7 linked regions of the Homo sapiens genome follow. The protein of the gene in region 4 purifies or fractionates together with the protein of the main gene of each other region. This does not show direct contact. Each region holds a gene or a part of one and is shown on either strand. Other genes may lie near its edges. The genes, in order: MDH1, MTHFD1, ESD, MYLK4, RDX, TARS1 and LETM1.

What was found.
Region 1: the proteins of MYLK4 (region 4) and MDH1 purify together in Homo sapiens (affinity purification with mass spectrometry; one large-scale study listed by BioGRID and IntAct). This does not show direct contact.
Region 2: the proteins of MYLK4 (region 4) and MTHFD1 purify together in Homo sapiens (affinity purification with mass spectrometry; one large-scale study listed by BioGRID and IntAct). This does not show direct contact.
Region 3: the proteins of MYLK4 (region 4) and ESD purify together in Homo sapiens (affinity purification with mass spectrometry; one large-scale study listed by BioGRID and IntAct). This does not show direct contact.
Region 5: the proteins of MYLK4 (region 4) and RDX purify together in Homo sapiens (affinity purification with mass spectrometry; one large-scale study listed by BioGRID and IntAct). This does not show direct contact.
Region 6: the proteins of MYLK4 (region 4) and TARS1 purify together in Homo sapiens (affinity purification with mass spectrometry; one large-scale study listed by BioGRID and IntAct). This does not show direct contact.
Region 7: the proteins of MYLK4 (region 4) and LETM1 purify together in Homo sapiens (affinity purification with mass spectrometry; one large-scale study listed by BioGRID and IntAct). This does not show direct contact.

What each region holds. Positions count from the first base shown.
Region 1 is NC_000002.12:63,598,963-63,602,462, forward strand, and holds part of MDH1 (malate dehydrogenase, cytoplasmic), read left to right. Parts: intron 1-207; coding exon 208-330; intron 331-3,500. UniProt on the Homo sapiens protein: Catalyzes the reduction of aromatic alpha-keto acids in the presence of NADH. Plays essential roles in the malate-aspartate shuttle and the tricarboxylic acid cycle, important in mitochondrial NADH supply for oxidative phosphorylation.
Region 2 is NC_000014.9:64,457,439-64,460,525, forward strand, and holds the end of MTHFD1 (C-1-tetrahydrofolate synthase, cytoplasmic), read left to right. Parts: intron 1-775; coding exon 776-865; 3' UTR 866-869; intron 870-2,320; coding exon of another isoform or gene 2,321-2,497; 3' UTR 2,498-2,587; downstream 2,588-3,087. UniProt on the Homo sapiens protein: Trifunctional enzyme that catalyzes the interconversion of three forms of one-carbon-substituted tetrahydrofolate: (6R)-5,10-methylene-5,6,7,8-tetrahydrofolate, 5,10-methenyltetrahydrofolate and (6S)-10-formyltetrahydrofolate.
Region 3 is NC_000013.11:46,780,162-46,783,661, reverse strand, and holds part of ESD (S-formylglutathione hydrolase), read left to right. Parts: intron 1-870; coding exon 871-995; intron 996-2,046; coding exon 2,047-2,166; intron 2,167-3,500.
Region 4 is NC_000006.12:2,744,423-2,747,922, reverse strand, and holds part of MYLK4 (myosin light chain kinase family member 4), read left to right. Parts: intron 1-3,500.
Region 5 is NC_000011.10:110,258,615-110,262,114, forward strand, and holds part of RDX (radixin), read right to left. Parts: intron 1-3,500. UniProt on the Homo sapiens protein: Probably plays a crucial role in the binding of the barbed end of actin filaments to the plasma membrane.
Region 6 is NC_000005.10:33,464,965-33,468,586, forward strand, and holds the end of TARS1 (threonine--tRNA ligase 1, cytoplasmic), read left to right. Parts: intron 1-1,906; coding exon 1,907-2,021; intron 2,022-2,595; coding exon 2,596-2,744; 3' UTR 2,745-3,122; downstream 3,123-3,622. UniProt on the Homo sapiens protein: Catalyzes the attachment of threonine to tRNA(Thr) in a two-step reaction: threonine is first activated by ATP to form Thr-AMP and then transferred to the acceptor end of tRNA(Thr).
Region 7 is NC_000004.12:1,849,657-1,853,156, reverse strand, and holds part of LETM1 (mitochondrial proton/calcium exchanger protein precursor), read left to right. Parts: intron 1-3,500. UniProt on the Homo sapiens protein: Plays an important role in maintenance of mitochondrial morphology and in mediating either calcium or potassium/proton antiport. Mediates proton-dependent calcium efflux from mitochondrion.

The sequences.
Region 1 (3,500 bases), on a different chromosome or scaffold from region 4:
TCTGATATTATTTCAAAATTTTTTATTACCATTTTATAAAAGATTTTTATAACTTAAAATGCATTTTCCTATGCTATATTGTATTTGGTGTTTCCCAAGCCTCCCCTGTACAAAGGCTACCTGTTAGACATTTTCAGTCAAATTTTAACATAGATTAGTTAGTAACTATATAGTCTGTAACTCTTCAGTGCCTTCCATTCCTCCTAGGTTATTGTTGTGGGTAATCCAGCCAATACCAACTGCCTGACTGCTTCCAAGTCAGCTCCATCCATCCCCAAGGAGAACTTCAGTTGCTTGACTCGTTTGGATCACAACCGAGCTAAAGCTCAAGTAAGAAAAATATATTTTAAATCTTGTGGTTGTTCAACTTTAAAACATTTTTCTCTCACTTTTAAAATAACTGAATCTGAGTTTGTGCTTTTTTCTTGTTTTTGTTTAGTAGGAACCTATTACTTTTATTAAATTAAAAGTAAATTATTATTCATTTGTTAGGGAGTCTTTAAATGTATTCTCTTAAAGGACCAGAGGCTGGACTTCCTACTTGATTTCGTCTTTAACTATATTTCAATTGCTAACTATAATGAAATGCAGTTACTAATGTTCTCTTGTTACAGTGGTTAAAAATTAGTTATACATGATGGTACATAATTTAGTTTAATTTTTTCAGATACATATAATCTCATATAAACAAAGACTTGAGCTTTGTGTGATTGTGTGGTTCTGCTTCTATTTTAGCTGCAGCTAAGCCATCAAATTCAGATTTTAATTTTTAATTTTATATTTAATTTTCATTTTATGTCTTTTTAATATTCTATGTGTATCTGTAAAATTTCCTCCTTTCACTACTTAGGAGCTAAAGTCTGTTGCTAATTTTCTTTACTCTTAGAGCCATAGATAAGTATGCCAAGGAGCCAGTGACCAGGGAATTAACAATAGCTTTTCAAAAAATTAGAAGCCAGGCAACTGATCTGAGCTAGTTTCCTAGGCTTTTTCAGATCTAACTGGTCCTGGTGCCCGTTCTTGGACAGAACCTCTTTCCTTTGCCCTAATGCTTTTCTGGCCATCCCTTCTTGTCTGTAGGTCATCACTGCTAGATAGGTCTATGAGTTCAGTGCTTTTTCTTCTAGAGAAGATAACTTTAGTTTCAAAAAAAAATTGTTGTTAACCAGAAGATGCTGTGAGGTCTAAGCTGAAGCACTACTGCCCTAACCTGAGAATTAATAATCCTTCAGCTCTGGAATGCCTAGTGAAAGAGAAAAGAATATACATTTGTTAAGCATCTACTGTAAATTGAATGCTATACATGTAATTTTCCATTTAATTTTTATAGTAACCATATGGGTATCTCATATTATCCCTGCATTAGGTAAGAAAACTGAGGCCCAGGGAAGTCAGAGAACCTGCTCAGAGTCATACAGCTCATAAATTACGGAGCCACCTTGATTTGCCTGACTCCAAACCCTTATGTATGTTCTTACCTAATGGTATCAACTAACCTTAGTCCACTTACTAGCTCTGTGATTTTGAGAAAGTATATTCAATGTTTAAAATGTAATAATTGTATCTACCTCAGAGAGTTCTTATGAGGATTAAATAAGATCTGTTTTAAGCCCTTAGCATGGTGCCTGCACATAGTAAATACAAGAAAGGTTGGCTGCTATTATTAGTTGATTTCTTCTTTCTAAGAAGCATACAGCCTAAACATTCCTAATTTAGAGGGTTGTTGGATAACAACCCTTAAATTTTTAGCTTAAAGTGCAAATATTCCCTGAGAGGCTATAGGCTGTGAGCTGGGTCTGGTGGTAGCTGAGAACGAATAGGAGTTTGTTTGAATGGCAGGCAGTTTGAGTTCTGTGGGACAGTTGTAAAGGAAGAGATATTATACATGTTACAGTTGCAAACTCTGGATTGCCAGAAAGTGACTTATTTAGTTCCTACAACAAGAAAGTTCCTACAACAATGACACTAACAACCACTTTTTGTTGTTTCACCTGAGGCTTTGGTGGAGACAGGCATTGGAAAATTCTGCTTCCAAAGGTACTTCAAAGAGATACTTTGTCCTGGTGCCTGAAACAGTTCTCACTGCAGGGCTCAAGTCTGAATGAGCAAAGAGGAAAGAAAGTGCTATCTCCTCAGACTTTAACCTTCACTTGGGGACATGTTCTTTGTTACTCCTGGGACCTTGGCTAGGCATTGTTTCAGCATGTCAATCTGGCATAGTGAGAGCTTTTAGGGAGTCATTGAAGAAGCACTTTCTTCCTCTAGAAGAAGTTGTTTATCCAGTGAGAAAAATAACAAACCCAAAGATAAGTTTTTCTTACAGGACTGGTTGCTAGATATTTTTGTCTTGGAATTCAGAGGCCTTAGCGACTTAGGGACTGTTTAACACCTGCAGAACTTGCCTGTGTATTTGCAAACCAGTGCTGTATTTATGTCTGCTGATAAGGTAATTTGACATTGATACCAGATAAGGTAATTTGACAATGATACCAGTTAGCTTGTAAGAAAATTACTAGGGCTGGAGAATTAATCAAAAACTTTTAACAGACCTATGTGACAGACATGAGTGTCTAAGGGAGCAAAGAGCTGTTATCCTGGGTATGTATTAATTTAGACTAATTGTGACATGAATCATATTAAGAAACTATATCTGCTGGATGCAAAGTACCTGGCCTTTGCTGTCCAGACAGAACTGGATTAGCTCAAGAGATAGAAGGAGCAAGAGGAGGAGGGCAACAAGAACAAAGGAAGGCATGGGAGCCAAGGAGGACTGAGGGTGGAGAGGCCTAGAGGCATTTTGTCTTCACTGTACTTGGGAGCATTGAAGCAGACATTCAGGGAAGTTATAGGCTCTAACTTCCTGGTAATATATATCTTGAGTTAATTGTTCAAGGTATAAATTTATCTTTTTCTATATACCATACCAGCTAAATTTAAGTATAAATATAAGAGCAGTTTCTTCCCCAGTTCTTTCTGGTCATGGCAGACGTAAAAAATGGTACTCATTGAACAGCGTGCCACTCTACCCTATCCCACAGGCTAAGCAGATCAATAGCTGGGTACCCCAGAAACCCAACTGTGAACTAATTTGTGGAGACTAATGCAAATATTGTAGATAATAGTCCTAATACTTGCAAGACTTGCAGGGATTAGATCGGTCAAAAGTGATTTACAATATCACAAACATAAATTTTTAAGTAAACTTTTAACTATTTTAGGATTTAAGAAAGCAGTCTCAACTAGTTTAAGAGTGGGAGTGAAAGTAAAGACAGTTTACTTCTTACTTAACTGAATAAATTAGTATGAAGACCAGTCGAGTCATTGCAGACATTTTAGGTAATGGCCTTTTTTTTCATCTTTATCCTTTTCGGTTGGTTGGTTGGGGTTTTTTTTTTTTTTTTTTTTTGCTTTTTATTTTGAAATAATTTTAGACTCAAAAGTCGCAAAAAAATAGTACAGAGAAGGCCCATGTACCCATCACCCATTGATGGTACCTTACA
Region 2 (3,087 bases), on a different chromosome or scaffold from region 4:
AATCAGTTTCTTTTCTTTTCCTTTTTTTTTTTTTTGAGATGGAGTCTTGCTCTGTCACCCAGGCTGGAGTGCAGTGGCAAGATCTCGGCTCACTGCAACCTCCGCCTCCCAGGTTCAAGCGATTCTCCTGCCTCAGCCTCCCAAGTAGCTGGGATTACAGGCACACGCCACCATGCCCAGCTAATTTTTGTATTTTTAGTAGAGATGGGGTTTCACCATGTTGGTCAGGCTGGTCTCAAATTCCTGACCTCAGGTGATCCATCTGCCTTGGCCTCCCAGAGTGCTAGGATTATAGGCATGAGCCACCACGCCCGGCAGGGATCAGTTTCTGAGTTTTTTAACAGGATCAGTGACTTGATTTTTAATATGTAACAAGAGTACCCACTTTATTGACAACTATAAAATGATGTTCTATCTTTATGCCTTGGGCTTTCTTTCTGAAGGAAAAGTGAAAGTAAAGATGACTTTACGTTTATTTTAGACATGGCCTTGCTCTGTCGCCCAGGCAATCGGATGATCATGGCTCACTGTGGCCTCAACCTCCTAGCCTCAAGCAATCCTCCTGCCTTAGCATCCCAAGTAGCTGGAACTACAGGCACATGCCATCATATCCAGCTAATTTTTTATTTCCTGTAGAGATGGGGGTCTCACTATGTTGCCCAGGGTGGTTTAGAACTCCTGGCCTCAAGTGATCCTCTCCACCTCAGCCTGGGATTATAGGCGTGAGCCACTGTGCCCAGCATTAGTTTATTTGTAATGCTTTTTTACATCCTAGATGAGCACAATGCCTGGACTCCCCACCCGGCCCTGTTTTTATGATATTGATTTGGACCCTGAAACAGAACAGGTGAATGGATTATTCTAAACAGGTAAGTTGTTACTGGGTAATAATTTGGCTTTTTTCCTCATGTAGCTTATTTATGAATTATAGGGCTCAAACTGACGCTATAAAAATTCACATTCTAATGCTTTCAAAACATTTCTTTTCAGACTTCCCTGAGGGGAGAGGGGATAGTAATGAGAGTTGGCAATAACCAATGAATTGAAATATTTATATTTCAACACATTTTTGGAAGAAGCGCAGCATGGCTTGTCACAGGTTGACAGTGTAGGGGAGAAAACTGCTGTCCAATAAACTACAGAGGAAACTACAGGAGAGGTTAGACTCCCTCTGCTGAAGCCCCAGGAGGCTTGGGGTTCAGAGTTGATGACACATTGCAGGTCAGGAACAGCTGACGGTCTGTATACTCTGAATAGGTAGTTAGAAGGCAAGAATTAGCAAATGTCTTAGGAAGTATAATAGAAAAGAGAAGGAAACAGGACCAATCTGGCAGTTCTTAGGGCCTTAGGTGAAAGGGCCCTGAGTACCGACTGCAATGAGTGACATTGCATTGTTTGATATTTTTGAAATTTCAACAGGACGTGTCTCTCCTTAGGCAGACCCTTGGGGCTGAAGCAGCAAGTTGCAGTGTGCACTTATATCCCTAGACACATCCTGTTGAAACTGCAAAAATATCAAACATGAAAATCCTAACATCTTTCTCCAGAGACGAAAAAAGTGGCTTGCCTATGAAAAGAATGAGAACTAGACTTAACGCCCGTCTTACTGGCAATAAGAAGCTTTTAGACAATGGAGGAGTGTCCTGTAAGGTCACAGGGAAGATGACTTTCAACATGTGCTCACACCTAGCCGAATCTATCTGGATATTTTCAGACGTGCAAGGGTTTGCCACCCCACATCTCTTCCTAAGAAGTTATTTAGCAATGTACTTAGCAAAATGAGGAATTAACCAAGAAAAAAGGAAGACGTGAGTTTTGGGAAACTGAACCCTCATTTGGACATTAGCGAAGGGGCATTCTGATAACCATGCAAATGACCTGAAGTTACAAATCCTGTGTGGAACAGGTTGGGGGAGCACCTGAGAAAAACTAGAAAAAGCTAGAAAAGACAAGGATATCAAAGGGTCATAGTATAAAACAAAAGCTCTTGCATTATTTGAGAAAGTTAAGGTCCAAGTAGAAGCAAACTGTAGTTTGATGCTAGAACACTATTCTTTGAGAGGGTATGTGTGATACTCGAAATGCAGTCATGGCTCACGGCTTGGTCTGGTCTTGAACAGTATTCACACAGTACTATGGAAATACCATGCATCATTTTCAAGTCCATTTATGGACACGCCCTAGAAGAGCTGGTGGCAGGAAAGGATGTAAATGTTAACAGCTTTGGCAATGTGAGTGGGTAATGGTGCAGTATGGAAGGAACAGGAAACATTTCAGTGCTTGCTTAGAGAAAACATTTATTTCTTGTTTTTCCTTCCAGATCACCATCCATCTTCAAGAAGCTACTTTGAAAGTCTGGCCAGTGTCTATTCAGGCCCACTGGGAGTTAGGAAGTATAAGTAAGCCAAGAGAAGTCAGCCCCTGCCCAGAAGATCTGAAACTAATAGTAGGAGTTTCCCCAGAAGTCATTTTCAGCCTTAATTCTCATCATGTATAAATTAACATAAATCATGCATGTCTGTTTACTTTAGTGACGTTCCACAGAATAAAAGGAAACAAGTTTGCCATCTTGGTGTTGCAATATGAATTACAGCCTTAACAGACTGTGCCACAGGTCTCTGCCATCCTTTGTGAGCTCATTTGTCAGGCAGACCCTTGGGCTGAAGATGCAAGTTGCAGTGTGCCCTTTATGATACTGTTGTGTTTAGAGGGAAATGTATGCATGCTTGTGTATTTCTGAGAGGACACATAATTCAGGGGACCTCCTGAGAGGGTTGGGTTGGAAGTTGATGACTTACCTTTTAATCTTATACCTTTCTATATTGTTGAATTTTGTTTTTCTACCCTGAGGAAGTATTGCTTATACAAGTTTTTGCCTGAACTTCCTTGGAATTCCCATTTCTGTCACAGCTTTAGCACTGTCTATGTTTAGAGTGCTCAAGAAGGATGGTCATGCAGCATTAGCCTTAGGTGAGCCTCTATTCTGTTGGTGCAGCAAGTATTCATTGAGTTTCTTCTAAATGCCTGGGCTCCACCCTTCCCTACAGACTTTTTATTTTTATTTTTATTTTTTTGAGACAGTGTCTC
Region 3 (3,500 bases), on a different chromosome or scaffold from region 4:
ATATTTCCTTTCACAGGCCATATTATACAAAAACAATGCATATCTGGTTAGAAATATAACAACAGATTTAATTCAAAATAATATCAAAAATATAAAATACGAAAATAGATATATAAAAGGGAAACTAAAATTTTGTTATCATAAACGAAGACTTTAATAAATGGGAAAATGCTGTGTTTCTAGATGGATAAAATGAATCTTACGACAAGGTCATGTCTCCAAATTACTCTACGTGTTACTGTAATTCTATTCAAAATCCCAATGGTTGGCTTTTTAACCACATGCAAGTATATAAAATAAAATGTAACAAGTTAAAAAGAAACATAAGAAAATTCCAGTGGAGGTTGGATAGATAGGAAAAATGTGATGGAAAGCATATTAGAAAACATTTTCAGTTCAAGATAGTAAGTTGAGCACAAGCATCTGCCTCCCCACTCCTGTGTAAAGAGAATTTAAAAAGTGCTGATAGTGAGAGAGGGTCATCAGGGAAGGGATCACAACACATTTCTGAAAGATAAAAAGAGGATATAAGTCCTTTTTGACAGGTAAACCAGAGTAAGGAAACATATGTTCAGAGTACATAAGAAACTTCATCAACAAAGAAAGTTAGTGTATCTTACCTTGGCAGCTGAATACTCCAGCTTGGAAGGTCATTTTTTACCTCATTGGCCAGAACGAGTCGCAGGGCCCCATTCAAGGGCAAGAGGAGCAGGAAGTATAATCCTATCATGTGCTCCAAAAGGCAGAGAGCTCACAACATTTGGTGAACAGTTCCCATGCAAATGGACTTGCAGATTCATCTGAAAGTGTGTTATTAAACATGGGCCATTACTACAGAGCAGATGAAACCACAAGATTGTTTCTTGATAGGTGGCTGCAATATTAAAGGTGAAGATGAGAGCTGGGACTTTGGCACTGGTGCTGGATTTTATGTTGATGCCACTGAAGATCCTTGGAAAACCAACTACAGAATGTACTCTTATGTCACAGAGGAGGTAATTTAATTTGTATTGTAATTATTAATTGATGACTGCCAAGAGTTTGATTTTGAACACAAAGTCCTTACAATCCTGAGGATTTTAAACTAGGGTATAAAAGTTACTAGTAAAAATTCCAAAGTTTGCTAGTACTATAGTTCTATTTACTGCAATTTAAATTAACACTAAGTACAATTAAAGAATATAATCATTATATTGAGACCTGTTTATACTACCCAGAATAACCAAGAAAATGGTATATGAAAAAAACCTTTAATTTGCCTGGCAGCTGGTTCATTTGGATGTATTTTATAGTGATAAGCCAAGGCTTAGTTAGAAAACATAAGTGGTAAAGCATTACCTCTATTAATAATATTTGTATGCTGCTTATGCATTTTCTGAATTTTATATGATTTTCATTGTTACTATGTATATCATAAAAACTTAGAAACAATAGTGTAAGTTTTTAATTACCCATAATTCTGTTACCCCCCCAAAACACTTATGTTTTGGTATGTTCCAGACTGTTTCTATGACTAGTTTTCACGTAATTCTAAACTTTTTTATTTTCTTCTTCTTTTTAAGTTACATATAAAAATATTTTCTAGTGTTATTCTGATTTTAATAATTGTGTAATATTCTGTCATATGCCATAATTGACTTTTTCCTCTTATAGAATACTTATGGTTTTGTATATGTTTTTACCCTAATAAATATTACTGCATTGATTATATTTGTGCATAATGTTTTCTCCCTAAGGACTTTTCCTTAGAATATATTCCAAAAAGTGAAATTACTAGGTCAAAACTTAAAAGCATTTTAAAGGTTCTTTCTGCATCACCTTCCTAAAGTGTTTTCTAAGAAGTCTGTACCATATATTTTCCAGGGATATATTAATAATCATGGTCTGCCTGAGGATTTAGTTTTGTTTTGTTTTCATTGTTACTAGTTCAAACCATTGTAAGACTATGATTTGGCAGTATTGATTGTGTAATTATTTTCTGTAACTTTGAAATGTCTGAACTTATTTTCTTTGATATCTTTTGTCACACTATTAAATTTTTTCTAGCTTCCCCAACTCATAAATGCCAATTTTCCAGTGGATCCCCAAAGGATGTCTATTTTTGGCCACTCCATGGGAGGTCATGGAGCTCTGATCTGTGCTTTGAAAAATCCTGGAAAATACAAAGTAAGATTATCTAAACTTCTAGTGATAAATATTTCTCTTGAATAACATAATATTAGGAACCTTCAAAGAGTAAAATTACAATATTGTTAGTATTGGAACTAAACTTTTCTAGTGTTGAGAACTTTGGGGTGTTTGAAGGGTGGGTATTTAATTTGACCATAGAGTGTATGCTGCAGAATCAGACGCATAGGAATTCAGCAAGAGTGCTTTCTTATTGGCCTACTGGAAGTATTATAAAATGTAGCTTCTCCTTTAATTGTTTTTATTCCAACTATAGTTTTGAACACACTTTTTTTCTGTAAAGGTTATTATTACTGATTAATGTTATAGTGGCAGGATCTATCATTTATATTCTTACCAGGGATGTCTTTGTAAAGTTGACTTTGATTTTCTGAGGTAAAAGATATGATTTGTAGAAGCTTAAGAATTGTGTTCTTAATGCCTCTAATGAAAATTGAAATGCAGCTTGATTAAAAAACATCACTCTCAGCCTTTCCCAGAGTCAAATTTGAATAACTACCATATGTAGTATGTCATACTGTGCAGAACAGCATGTTACAAGAGTTGAATAAGGAAGTGTTAAAGCAACTAGCATCTTAAAATTTCTTCTGCCTTTAAATTTACAGGGCTGTTCATGCCCTTAAAATTGGTTTAATTCATTTCCTCCTCTTAGGAAGAACTTGATTATTTTAGGTGTGCTACTGAGAAATGAAAACATTTCTCATAACAGTTTCTTTCTGTGGCATCAAATATTTTGTTTTTGGTACGCTTTATTATCAAGTTTTATTAATTCATGGCCTGACAGTGGGCTTTCTAAGTAAGCACTTTTATTTCCATTTTTTAAGGCAGTCTATCATGTCTGAGGTAGAAAAGCAAACTTAGTTGATTTTTTTGTCCTTTAAAAAAGCTAGTAGATACCACTAAACATTTACATTGATGAGTACTCTGAAGTTGAGAGATCCCATCTCTGCATCTCATCCAGTGAAAAAGAACATTGTATAGAACACAGAGTTGTATTAAAAATTCTGTCATATTGAAATGCATTGCTCACTGCTTTGTTGGTACTGTTTAAGAGAAATGTGTCAGATTTAGTAACATGTTCACTAAGGTAAGCATGAACTGTTTTATATCACTATAGATTAATTTTCAGTGCTAAAAAAGCAGAAACGCTGAACATAGACTTCTGTTTGTATCTTAAATTGCAATGTATTGTTTTGCATTATTTTAGCAACTATACTTATTAGCTCTCTTAATAGAATACACAAAAGATGTATTATGGAAAGGCCTGCAATCTAAGCCAGCAATATATCAAAAGGAAAATTGTTCACAGGGTT
Region 4 (3,500 bases):
TTCAATATAGACCAAGGAGAAATATCTACAGGCAAAATTAAGTGAGACATGACTTTCTCATTAGGGTTTTCAGTGGTACAAACAGGATAATTTTTTCTGTTTATTAATTTCGGTAGGACAGAGAAGACAAAATATTCTTCTTGGAGAACTTTGAAATCATCAACTAACTGTAATAGTTTATATGAATTTCATTATCTTTCAAGTACTGTTTTTCTCCAAAATCTATGATACAATTTTTATAAATGGGCAACACTCTAAAGAGTGAGATAAGCAGGACACATGGCTCATACCTGTAATCCCAGCACTTTGGGAGGCTGGGGCAAGAGAATCACTGGAGGCCAGGAGTTTGAGACCAGCCCAGGTGACATGGTGAGATGTCTATTTCTACAAAAATAAAAAAATACAAATAAAATAGCGGGCATGGTGGCACACATCTGTAGTCCCAGCTACTTGGGAGGCTGAGGCAGGAGGATTGCTTGAGCCCGGGAGTTCAAGGATGCAGTGAGCTATGATCACACCACTGCACTCCAGCGTGGGCAACAGAGGAAGACCCTGTTTCTGAAGATAAAAAAAAAGAGTGCGATAGTGCTAAGTTGGAACATAAATATATGTAGGGATGTTACTTTTGTGCAGCCAACTACATCCAGAAGTTGATGATTTGGAAGTTAAATATTTTTAGGGTGTTTTTGAGGGAAAAATTGAGACTGCTATTTAACCCCTAGAAACCATCAGAGAATGTCCTTTATAGTAAGTCTCATATCCCTTCTGTAACTTGGGCCTCCTGGCTTCCGTCCTGCAGTTGACACCCTGTGGAAGGTGGGAAGGAATCACTAGGAGCTCCATGTGTCCCATTCAATTTCTTACTTGTAAATGGAGAAGGGCCTAGAGATGTCTGCAATAAATTTCCCTGTCTCTCTCCGTCCACGTGGAGAATGGATAGGTGCATGTGTCAGAGGCACAGAGTTCTCCTTTCCATGGCCTGGAGCCCCTGCCTGCCTAGTTGGTGGGTGCCAGGGCAGCCAGCAGGCTTGGCAGCGGGTGGGTGGAGAAGGACATTCCAGCAGCTCAGATGTCTTCAGGTATGCAGACAGAGCTAGATTAACACGTCTTCATCTTCTGCTGGGGCAGCAGTAAATCTTTAAAATGCCACGCTTTTCTCTCCAGGGACTATAAAAACATGCTTGTCGATTTTCTCCACCTATTCCCCTTTCTCTCTCATCCCTTCTCTCTTTGAGGGGATTAGCACGGCTAATCATAGTAGAAACATCCCCTGTGGTGCACTGGAAAGAATGTACTCTGAATTTCAGACTCTGGTGACATGAAAGCTTTGTTCTGGAAGCTTGCAGTGCAGTTTCTTTAGAGTCTGGAACTACTCTCCAGTCCCAATAGGGGAAGAATTTTATATAGATTTAACAACTTATATTTGTTAAAATAGTTTGATAAAACTCAGATTCTTTTTGTTTTCCTGCTCTTAATCAGATTTTTCTATTTCTTTTATTTTTCTTCTACTGAATTCATTTTTAGCCATCTTCCTTCTTTCCTCTATGTTTTACTGAGTTTATGAAACACTTCATAGCCTTCTTTTCTTCCTTCTACTTAAGTAGTTCTTGTTCTTTTAATTTTTCTTTCTTTCTTTTTTTCTTTTTTTCTTTTTTTGAGACGGAGTCTTGCTCTGTCACCCAGGCTGGAGTGCAGTGGTGCGATCTCAGCTCACTGCAACCTCCGTCTCCCAGGTTGAAGCAATTCTCCTGCCTTAGCCTCCTGAGTAGCCGGGATTACAGGCGCACGCAACCACGCCTGACTCATTTTTTTTTATATTTTTTTTTGTATTTTTAGTAGAGACGGGGTTTCACCACATTGGTCAGGCTGGTCTCAAACTCCTGACCTCATGATCCACCTGCCTTGGCCTCCCAAAGTGCTGAGATTACAGGCGTGAGCCACCGTGCCCGGCCTTGTTCTTTTAATTTTTCTTGTTTGTTTGTTTCTTTTTTTTTTTTTGAGACAGCTTCTCACTCTGTCGCCCAGGCTGGATTGCAGTGGTGTGATCTCAGCTCACTGCAGCTTTGACCTCCCTGGCTCAAGTGATTCTCCTGCCTCAGCCTCCCAAGTAGCTGGGACTAGGCATGCACCACCACCCATGGCTACTTTCTGTATTTTTTTGTAGAGACAGGGGTCTCCATGTGTTGCTCAGACTGGTCTTGAACTCCTGTGCTGAAGTGATCCTCCCACCTTGGCCTCCCAGAGTGCTGGAATTACAGGCATGAGCTGCTGTGTGTGGCCTATTTTTCCTACTTTCCTTTTTATTCTGTTTTCTAATGACTTTTCTTATTCTATTATGTTCCAAAGGCTGTTCAAAATCACCTAAATTCTACCTACTGTGTAAAATTTTAAAAGTTTTCAGCAGATAACCATATGCCATAATAAACTAGATCTAAACATACGTACACGGTGTGGTGTTGAAATCAAGTAAAATTTACAAGACCAAATTGGTCTGACTCATATGAGTGATGAGCTCGATAGCTACTGTGTCCATACCATTAAGTTATAAATGATGAACAGGTTTCATAACTATAATTAGTATTATTTTTGTACAGTTGAATCTGGGTTTTTTTTCTTTTGTCAGTTCTCTGTTATCTATATAGTAAATAGCCCTCGTGTTGTATTTCCCCCAGATTTACTTGAATATTTAGTAGGATCTCTGTCTCATATACACCCCCACACCCCTTTGCTTAATGAAACACAAATGTGCCTGGTGATATTCTCAGCCAACCATTCGGCCCTGCGTGCTTCTCACTGCTTTCCTCGGTGTACCACCCCCATCCCTGCTCCTGAGGCCCGGGGTTGTCTGTGCTCTCCTCCTCCTCCGTTGGTTTTCCCCACCTGCCTGTTCACCCCTAGTTACTCATCCTCCATCCAAAAGGCATGGTCCCAAGTATAAAAGTAGGACACAGGTTGTGAATGCTCACTCTACAAAAATATGTCAGCATAGCCCACCGTTCCACATCCGCGCCTGGAAGACCCCTAAGCAAATCATTTCTGAATTTATCCTAACCCTTGTTGATTTGTGTTTGAAAGCCTTCCTTCATAGGGAATAATTCCTTTTTAAAACCTGGCTTAAGTTCTTCCATATCCCAACCAGGGGGTATCCCAAAGCTGTGGGGGTAGAAACAAGCATGGCCCCAGCAGACTCGGGACCCCACTGTCCCTGGAGTGTTTAAATGCCCGGTACAAATGCTCCCAAGACCAAGCAAAGCAAAATATTTATTAACAGGATGTGCAGAGGGACAGTGGGTTGGAGTAAAGTGTGGATTTTCCTATTTTGATTGCAGTTGGTGGATTTAACACCAGGTGGCATTTCCTGACCATCTGCTGTGAAATTGTACCATCAGCACCATCCGTAATGACTATAACTTAGATCTCAAAATAACAAGGCTGAGGGCAGAGGTTTTGTGATTTTTCAAGTTGCATTTCGCCACCTCCATCCCTGTGCTCCTCACCCT
Region 5 (3,500 bases), on a different chromosome or scaffold from region 4:
TCAAAGGAATAAAACATTAGATAAAAAAATGGCTCATTGTTAATAGATAAAGACCAGACTGAAAACCAGAATTCTTGGGCCCTAATTCTTCCTTTATGTATTTACTTTTTTGCTACTAATTTTGTTGTTTTAGGTAGGTAATACTTTCAATTAAAAAGTAGAGTGAAAAGTCATACTCCAGTCCAATACCCCCCAAATAACTTGTTTTTGTATCCTTCCAGTGTTCTTAATTCAAATGTGAGCAAATACATTCTTTTTTTTTTTTTTTTTTTTTTGAGATGGAGTCTCGCTCTGTTGCCCAGGCTGGAGTGCAGTGGCACAATCTCGGTTCACTGCAACCTCTGCTTCCTGGGTTCAAGTGATTCTCCTGTCTCAACCTCCCAAGTAGCTGGGATTATAGGTGTGTGCCACGATGCTCTCGGCCTCCCGCGTAGCTGGGATTACAGGCGTGCGCCATAATGCCTGGCTAATTTTTCTTTTTTGTGTGTTTTTTTGGTATTTTTAGTAGAGACGGGGTTTCGCCATGTTGGCCAGGTTGGTCTTGAACTCCTGACCTCAAGTGATCCACCTGCCTCGACCTCCCAAAGTGCTGGGATTACAGGCGTGAGCTACCACGCCCAGCCAAATACAAACATTATATTCTACTACTACTATTTTAACACCAAATCAGCAAAGTCAACATGATTATAAGTTACCTACTATGCACACTACAGTTTGTGACTTCTATTCTCTTTGGCTCATATGATAATTATTCACCTTTATTTACCAGATCCTACTTTACTGACAGCAGAAGCTGTGGTGTTAAAATATTACTGTTTTACTATATAAAAAATCTTGCATGAAACCCAAGGATTTCTTGGCAGCATAAAGGAATGATAAAATCTCCCCCTGGATAAGTTACCTACTACTTAGAGTAAATTCCTTAAAGGGGTCTCAGACATACTGTTATGTTCTTATTATACTCTGCTCCTTTCTCTAGGCATCTTTTCCAAGCTCTTGCTTTTGGGGAGAAGAGTTTCATCTTCCTTCTGAGAGAGCTTAGGTTTCCACAGTTTCTTGTCTTTCTTGCTGTCTGGCCTCTGGGCTCACAGAGAGGCATGCAATCAGCCTTGGAGACATAACCCAGTGCAGTCAATTGCTTACCATAATTATATGCCCAATGCCAGTACTAAAGAGGGCCTCGAAAATTTGTAGAGTGAATAAATGAATTAATCAATTTTTCCCAACCCCTATTTTTTTTTCTTTTTCAGAGACAACTTTCTTTTATGGACTGTCCATTATACACTAACCTCAATTTCCATACCTGACATCCACTGCCCCCAGTCTACCATAATCTGGCTCAAACACCCAATACTCTATGGTAACTGTTCTTCTTTTTTTTTTTTTCTTTAGACAGAGTTTCGCTCTTGTTGCCTAGGCTGGAGTGCAATGGCATGATCTCGGCTCACTGCAAACTCCACCTCCCGGGTTCAAGCGATTCTCCTGCCTGAGCCTCTCCAGTAGCTAGGATTACAGGCATGCACCACCACGCCCGGCTAATTTTGTATTTTTAGTAGAGACGGGGTTTCTCCATGTTGGTCAGCCTGGTCTTGAACTCCCAGCCTCAGGTGATCCGCCCACCTCGGCCTCCCAAAGTGCTGGGATTACAGGTGTGAGCCACCACACCCGGCTGGAAACTGCTCTTCTAAGGTCACTACCAAGCTCCTTATTCCAACAGATACTTTAGTTCTCCTCATATTTGACCTCTTGGTACCATTTGGCAGTGCTGACCATTCTCTTCATCAAAGTATTCTTTTACCTTGGCTTCCATGATATAATACTCTTCTGGTATTATTCTTGTTTTCTGAGATGGAGTCTCGCTCTGTCGCCCAGGCTGGAGTGCAGTGGCGCCATCTTGGCTCACTGCAACCTCCGCCTCCCGGGTTCCAGTGATTCTCAGGTCTCAGATTCCCGAGTAGCTGGGATTACAAGCATGTGCCACCATGCCCAGCCATCTTCTAGTATAGAATTATTCTTGAATCTGTGGCCAGTGTCTCAGTACAGTTGTCCCTCCATATCCATAAAGGATTGCTTCCAGGACTCCCCTTGGATACCAAAAACTGTGGATGCTCAAGTCCCTGATATAAAATGGTGCAATATTTGCATATAACCTATGCACATCCTCTTGTATACTTTCAATCATCTCTAGGCTAATAATACTAATACACTATATTATTACTACTATGTAGTATAATAATACACTAATACACTACAAATGCTATGTATTGTTATCCTGTATTTTTAAAATTTTGTACCTTTTCATTGCTGTGTTATTTTTTTCACATATTTTCAATCTGTGGTTGGTTGACTCTGTGAATGCAGAACCCAAAGACAAAAGCTGAGGTCCAACAAGATCTGTCCTAGGTCTTTTTCTCATTTTTATGTACTTGGTAGGTTGATCTCTTTCATTCTCATGGTTTAATTACCATCTATTCACTGATTACTCCCAAAACTGTATCTATAGTCCAAGACTGTTTCTAAAAGGTCTGCACCCACATATGCAAATAAATACCAGATATCTCTCTTGGTTATATTGCACATATTTCAAACTCAATAGGTTCAAAACTGAATTCATCTTCCCCCTCAAATGTATTTTTTCTTCCACTCATTTTGATAAAAGGTATTACCAAATACCCAGCCGCCCAAGTCAGAAACCTGGTATGTAAAAGTTTATGTATATTTAGCTCTTTTCAAAGGGAAGCAATACTATCTGGTGGAGCTAATTATCTATACCACAAGAGCTAAACTTTTCTACAGTAAGAACAGATTGCTCATCTGGGTTTTTCAATACAAGAAATCAGAATGTATCAGAATCACTAAATTATTTTATTTGATTTGTTATCACCAAATAACCTAATTACTCATTTCCTCCCCAGACTGTACTTAGATACTGAGAAAAAGTGTCCGATATACCATACTGGAATAAGCCAATCACTGTGAAAATATCCTCTCTGTTCTAAACAGAAAATGAAAAAAAAATGGTATTCTAACTTTATGACTAAGTCTCATTTTAAGATAACATGGCTTGAATTAGTCCTCCATGGAATATCAACTCTGAAGGAACAACTGACCTACAAAATTAAGGAACAAATCTTGAAATAGGCATTTGCACTAGCAACCACAAGCAACCCTATCTAAAGCATTTAGCCACCTTCCTTCTTTTTAAATAGAGTAGGTTAGAGCACACCCATATTTAAAATAAACTGTGCTTGTGTGTTATTGTAGTGTTTAAGAGATTTTTTTCAATCACATGAGTTATGAAATGTAAGCCAATTACTTCATCTGCTGCTCAACCAAACAGCAATCTGGCTTAACACTGAAAGATCAATGCTGTACTTGTTTAGATAAAGCATTCCTATTCTTTAACATTTAAAAAAAAAATTAAAGTAATTCTGATTATAAAACAAAAGGTAATCCTTATATGAAATGAAATTCCACCATAATAGTCTGATTACTCAATT
Region 6 (3,622 bases), on a different chromosome or scaffold from region 4:
CTGAGGCAGGAGAATGGAATGAACCCAGGAGGCGGAGCTTGCAGTGAGCCAAGATCATGCCACTGCACTCCAGCCTGGGTGACAGAGCAAGACTCCATCTCAAAAAAATAAATAAATAAAAACAAATAAATAAATAAAAAAAATGAAGTGAACACTAAACCATCTAATAGATAAACCATTCAGACTATTCCTGTTACTGCACTCAGTAGTTTTAGTTACAAATGATGACAATCAAAGTTATGTTCCATGGTTGAGTGCACTTTGTCTTATTTGTATGTGAAAACTCACACAGTAGGAAGAAGTTCTGTATTGGTTAACTGAGTTCTCAACTGGAGACAGCACTGACTTCCCCATTTCCCTTTGCGGGTAGGTGGCATTCCAGATTATGTGGTGGTAAGCTTTTCTTTTGCGGGGAGAGAAGACAGGGCAGTACTCCTGATACCTAATAACTATAGAGCAGACATGTTAAACACCCTGTAATTATCAGGCCACTTCCCCAACTGCAGAATTGCCCATCTCACGTGCACACACAGGACCCATGTTGAGAAAAATGAAGAAACTGATGCCTTATTCTTTAAAGTAGTTATAAGTTGAAGATGTAGACCTATCTTGGCATTCTAAAATTCTGTAACAACCCTTCTGAAATGGGTGTAATAAAATGTCAACAGGTTAATTGGTTCGTGATCACTGTGGCTTAAAAATCTAGTTAAAATGCTAAGACTTGTGCACAGTATAGGCAAAGTCACTTAGATTGTTTCAAAAAGTATGCCTTATAGAAATAAACATTTGACATACATAAATAACCCTTGGTTTACACATAACTCGCATTTGAGAAATGAATGTGTTGTAGATCATTTAGAATCTTTTTCAATCAAAAATTGAAAGAAATATTTCGTCACCCAGGTCAACCAGAGATTGCTGGTTTTACTCATGATACTTAAGTAGAGTATGATAGTTACTATTTCACCTTCAGCTGTACTTAAGATGTTTTCCTGGAAAAATTCATTCTGCTTTCTGACCAGGATTTCCAGAAACTCTGACCCTTCTAAGAGGTCTGGGTGGAATTGTGATGGTGATTCTGCTAGTAGACAGTGTAACTTCTGCGTCTACAAAAAGAGGATAGGCCGTCACTGCTCACATGGCTTTGCGTGAAAGCCCAATGGTACTGTCTCTATGGCAGAGATGAGGAAGGAACACCAGCGTCCTCCAACTTTCCTGTTCTTCCTTTGGGTTAATGGCCACTGTAAGGAAACAGTTTTCTGCCACGTGTGGGGTGATTTGAATGTAAAATGCCCAACTCTCATAGCAGGCTGAACAGAAACATTTTTTATACTCATTGTTAATTTGTTCTAATCTAAATTACTTTTAGACTATTAAATATTATTCTATTTTAAAGTTAAGGGACTAATGCCTCTGATAACCTGATTAAAAAAAAAAACTTTCTGATACTCAGAAGTTAAGATTTATTCAGTTGAAGATCATTTCTTTCAGGTGTTGATCGTGTGATATTTTTCACATCTGTAATCTGAGGTTCATATGAAATGATAGTGAAATAAAATTGTTCATTTAGGTCTTTTTGTCATGTTAATATGTTATCAGGTTAATGGGAAGTTTAATCTAGTTAATGTAAAATTAATAAATTGTAATCTAGTTTATTGCTTTTTTGGAAAAGAATACTGAAAACATTGTTTACTTAATACACATGACCTGAGGTAATAAAGAGGAGCTGGCCTTTTTGAGGGGGGAATAATGGCAGTGAATAATATTATCTAAGACAGTTTTGCCAGCTTTAAATTCCTGGAAGTTCATCCAAGAAGTCCTGATCCCTGTGTTCAGTAAAATCATGTGAGATCAAAATATAATTCTGATTTTAGATCTGACAAATTCTGTATCTCTGTTACAATAGGTACGACAACAATTCCACGATGCCAAATTCATGGCAGACATTGATCTGGATCCAGGCTGTACATTGAATAAAAAGATTCGAAATGCACAGTTAGCACAGTATAACTTCATTTTAGGTAAGAATGGAAACTTACCAAAGAAAATTTGCCACACCTCAGGAAAATCTACTGAAACCTTGAGACAGGTTTAAGTGAATTGTAATCAAGAATTTATTTAGTTCCTTCCAGTCCTGATTTTTTTTCTATTATATATTTTAATATATAATAACTATAAAAATAGGCTCATGCATACATACTGGGTTTTTTTTTTTTTCACTTAAATCATGGATGTCTGTGAGAAAATATTTTGCTATTATAACAAGAATGAAGACGCATTGCTTTTAAACACATCTATTGGATTACTTTCTCAAGATAATGCCTTATGTGGGATTACTTGAAAAAAGATATTCATGATGTTTGGGGTTTTATTATTTGGTTGTTACGTTGTCTAGATTGACTCCATAAGCACAGTAGTTTTAGATATTGCAAAGAGTTTCTTTTAAATATCAACACATGGTCACTTGTACCTTTTAATGTATCAGAAGCTATGGGGTAGGTTTTGGGTCCTAGGATCATTTCTTTTCAGATGTTCAGTGTGAATTCTTCCATATCTTTAGATTAAGTCTGACAAAGCTTTGTGTGTTTGTTTTAGTTGTTGGTGAAAAAGAGAAAATCAGTGGCACTGTTAATATCCGCACAAGAGACAATAAGGTCCACGGGGAACGCACCATTTCTGAAACTATCGAGCGGCTACAGCAGCTCAAAGAGTTCCGCAGCAAACAGGCAGAAGAAGAATTTTAATGAAAAAATTACCCAGATTGGCTCCATGGAAAAGGAGGAACAGCGTTTCCGTAAAATTGACTTTGTACTCTGAAAACGTCAATTTATATTGAACTTGGAGGAGTTTGGCAAAGTCTGAATAGGTCAACCTGCAGGCGTAACTATTTTTGACCTAGTCAGTTTTTAAACAATGTGCATTTGAAGGAGTTAATTAAAAGAGAGCCAATAAAATGATTTTACTCATTCAGTATCTGAGTACTGGAAGTGAAACATGAGGAATGCTTTAGTGTAATGTGGGAGAACTTTTTTGTAAATTTAATGCAATTGAAAAAGTTTTCAAATTCAATTAAGATAACTAGAATTGGATTATGGTGTAAAAATAAAAAAAAAATTTATTCACATAAGTTTCAAGACTGCTCTGTCCCTCACATGTACACATACATGCCTGAGACAGATAATGTGGTTCAGTATTTATCTTTACAGTTTTACAGCAAATATAATGCAGGGTGGATGGAGACGGGGTAGGTCTGCAGCATCATAATGCTATTCATAAACTGGGTGTGAGCTGGGTGCTGGCTTCTCAGAGGATAAACACTTTTGGGAGTGTCATTTTTACTTAATGTTGGATGGACACCTTTTCAAACAAAAACTACCATGGATCTATTACAGAGTAGATTTGCACAAATGTTTAAGATAAAACGTGAATCTTCAGAGAAATATCTGTTTATGGCAGACTGTTCTGGACCATAGAATCACTTGGTTTACAAATTCCCTATTTTCTCATAAGGGATCATTTTCAAAATCTTCTACCAATAAATGGTGATTGAAAGGACAGCACAAAGTAAATAATTTCTTATGTGGATAAATACTAATTCCTCCTTGTTAGAATGATATTTTAA
Region 7 (3,500 bases), on a different chromosome or scaffold from region 4:
CATTTGTTGAAACTGGGGAGGACTTGGGGAGGAGCAGAATGAGGAGGGGCGCTAGTTGAGAGTTCTTGGAGGTGTGGACTGTGCCGTGCCCATCAGACCTGTGGGGCGTGTGTATTCAAGTCAGGGAAGAGATTGCCTGGGGAGGAGGTGGAGGTCAGGTAGGGAGGCTCTCCCAGGAGTGGCAAGGGTGAAGCCAGGTGAAGAAAGGTTTGTTTGTTCTTTGACCTGATCCTGGCACCAGCACTGAGGGCTGAGAACCCTGGAAGTTTCCTGAATGATGGGAGTGTCTTTTTTCATTTGTTTGTATTTTGAGACAGGGTCTTGCTCTGTCACCCAGGCTGGAGTGCAGTAGCTTGATCATGGCTCACCACAGCCTCCAAGCGATCCTCCTGCCAGCTGATGTTTTAACATTTTTGTAGACAGGGTCTCTGTTGCTCAGGCTTAACTCCTGAGCTCAACAGCGATCCACCTGCCTTGGCCTCCCAAAGTGCTAGGATTACAGGCGTGAGTTTGGGAGTGTCTTCTGTTATTCGTTATCACTGCACCTGAGTTTATGCTGATGAGGTGACTCCAGGCAGGCCCTTAGATAGATTGAGGTGCTGGCCATGCTGTGATTAGAGGGTGGGAACTTCCTGCCCCTTCCAGGGAGGCGAGAGGGTTTGGAGATTTAGTTCAGTCCCCATGGCCAGTGGGCCAATACTGTAATCAGTCATGAAGCCTTGATGAGAACTTCTGGGTGAGGAGGCTGGTGAGGCTTCCCACTGGCGTCCACCTAGCTCCACAGGACAAAGGATCCTGTGCTCGGGACCTCCCTGGCCATGCTGTCTGGTTGTTCCTAGGTACCAGGTACCCTTTATAATAAACTGTGACAGTAAGTAGAGCCCATTGCTGACATCTGAGTCATTCTTGTGAATGATCAAAACCAAGGCGGTCATGGGAACCCTCAAATGTGTGGTCAGCTGAAGTTGGGTAAGCCTGGGCACATGGAGTGGGGGCAGTCTTGTGGGACTGAGCCCGTACCCTGTGAGGTCTGCACTAACTCTGGGTAGTGTCAGTATGGAATTAAATTGTTGGACTCCCAGTTGGAGAATTCGTTGGTGTTGGAAAAAAGAACAGAAGGGCTCCCAGCAGGGCCTGGGCACAGATGACACCTGTGCTCGTGAGGGACGTGGAGCAATGATCCCCATCACCCCGAACGGCCTTGACTGGGGGTTCCTTGGAGAGCTGGGGACAGAAGCCGTCAGAACAGGTTTTGGGGAGAGCCTAGTAAGGGAGCCAGTGGGACAGGCAGTGTTAGAGAGAAGGTAGGGTCACTGGGGGACAGATCAGGGAACTCTGGGAGACCTGCCAGCCTGCCTGCTTGCCGGGCGGAGCCCTTGAGGCACAGGAGCTGGCCGGGGCAGGGGTGGAGGGGCTGAAGGTGCCATGGTGTGGGGAGGATAGCGGAGAATGCGCTGGGCCCTCTTCATGTGGAGAAAGGTGGGGGCCAAAGCTAGTCTCAGCTGGAGTGAGAAGGGCCTTGGCATGCTCACGTGTGCTGTGCTTTGAATTTTAACTTAAAATGTAACTTGCTGTGTATGAGAACATAGCCAACATTTTCCCCTTAACCCAGCTCCCAGTTCACAGACCGGACTGTTACAAGCCCTAAATGTGGCACGTAGTAGGAATTTCCTTCCCCACAGAACCAGGAGAGTTGCCTCCTGTTAAATGAGGTGAAGTGACGTATCGGTCCACTAGGAGCAGGGTCAGTGCCTGCCCTCCCCATCTTGTTCGTCCTCTCACGGTGGCTCTCGTTGCCGGCTGGAGTGAGCTCCCCCCATCTTAAAGCTGCACTTGCTGCTCCCTGGCTGTTGACTCATTGCAACCCCACTGCTTGGAGGTTCAAGGTCACTGGGCATCTCAGGGTGCTACCTGCTGGCTCCCGGCACCGCCTAGCCTCTGCACAGCCTGGCCTGGCACCTCCGTGGGCTGGTGCCTCTGGCCCTGCTGCTCCTATTCCTGTCTTGTTCCCAGCATGAAGTTTGATCACAATGGGCTCTGAATGTCAGTAATACGAATGAACTCTGACTTTATGCTTATAGGAACTAGAGCAAGTTAGGGAAAGCATCAAAAACATGTTGAAATCCTAAAAATGTGCTGTACACTTATCACTGTTGTTTATACAAGAAATGGCTTACTCTTGGTGTTTTTGTGGTTCTTCTCTTTTTTTTTTTTTTTTTGAGTGCAATGGCGCGATCTCAGCTCACTGCAACCTCTGCCTCCCGGAGGGTTCAGGTGATTATCCTGCCTCAGCCTCCCGAGTAGCTGGGATTACAGGCACCTGCCATCATGTCCGGCTAATTTTTTTTTATTTTTGTGGAGATGGGGTTTCACCATGTGGGCCAGGCTGGTCTTGAACTCCTGACCTCAGGTGATCCACCCGCCTCAGCCTCCCAAAGTGCTGGGATTACAGGCGTGAGCCACCATGCCCGGCCTGTGGTTCTAGTAATTCTTTTTTTTTTTTTTTTTTTTTCTGAGACAGAGTCTTGCTCTGTCGCCCAGGCTGCAGTTCAGTGGTGCGATCTCAGCTCACTGCAAGCTCCGCCTCCCGGGTTCACGTCTGTGCTGGGATTACAGGCGTGAGCCACTGCGCCCGGTCCGGTTGTAGTAATTCTTACAGCTCTTGCCCCTTGGGATCATTGCTTGCTCTATAGGGCTGTCTGCATAGAGGTCATGTTTCCACCAGAGCCAGCTGAAGTGAGTGGGGATGGTGCCACCGGTAGGAGTGCTCCCTCCCTAGGGCTGGCCTGCTTGGCTTCCCTCTTGGGGTGTCTGGAGTCAGGATCTACTTGAGGCTTCCCATCTTTTTTTAGGACTACTTTGAGATACTGTTTTCATAACTGGGGCAGACCCTTCACTTAGCAGTGCTCTGAAACCTTCCAACACTCAGAACTGGCTTCCAGAAACTTACAGAGGTTTCTACAAAAGAGATCTGTACTCTTTCAGATTTTTTTTTTCTTTTTGAGACGGAGTTTCACTCTTGTTGCCCAGGCTGGAGTGCAATGGTGCGATCTCAGCTCACTGCAACCTTTGCCTCCCAGGTTCAAGCTATTCTCCTGACTCAGCCTCCCAAGTAGCTGGGTTTACAAGCATGTGCCACCATACCCGGCTAATTTTGTATTTTTAGTAGGGATGAGGTTTCACCGCTGGTCAAGCTGGTCTTGAACTCCTGGCCTCAGGTGATCCACTCGCCTTTGCCTCCCAAAGTGCTGGGATTACAGGCGTGAGCCACGGCGCCCCGCCTTCTTTCAGACTTAAAAGAAGGTTTCAGGCTGGGAGTGGTGGCTCACGCCTGTAATCCCAACACTTTGGGAGACCAATGCAGGAGGGTCGCTCGAGGCCAAAAGTTGGAGACCAGCCTAGGCAACAAAACGAAACCCCGTCTTTACAAAAATTAGCCTGGCCTGATGGTGCACACCTGTAGTCCCAGCTACTTGGGAGGCTGAGGCAAAAGGATCCCT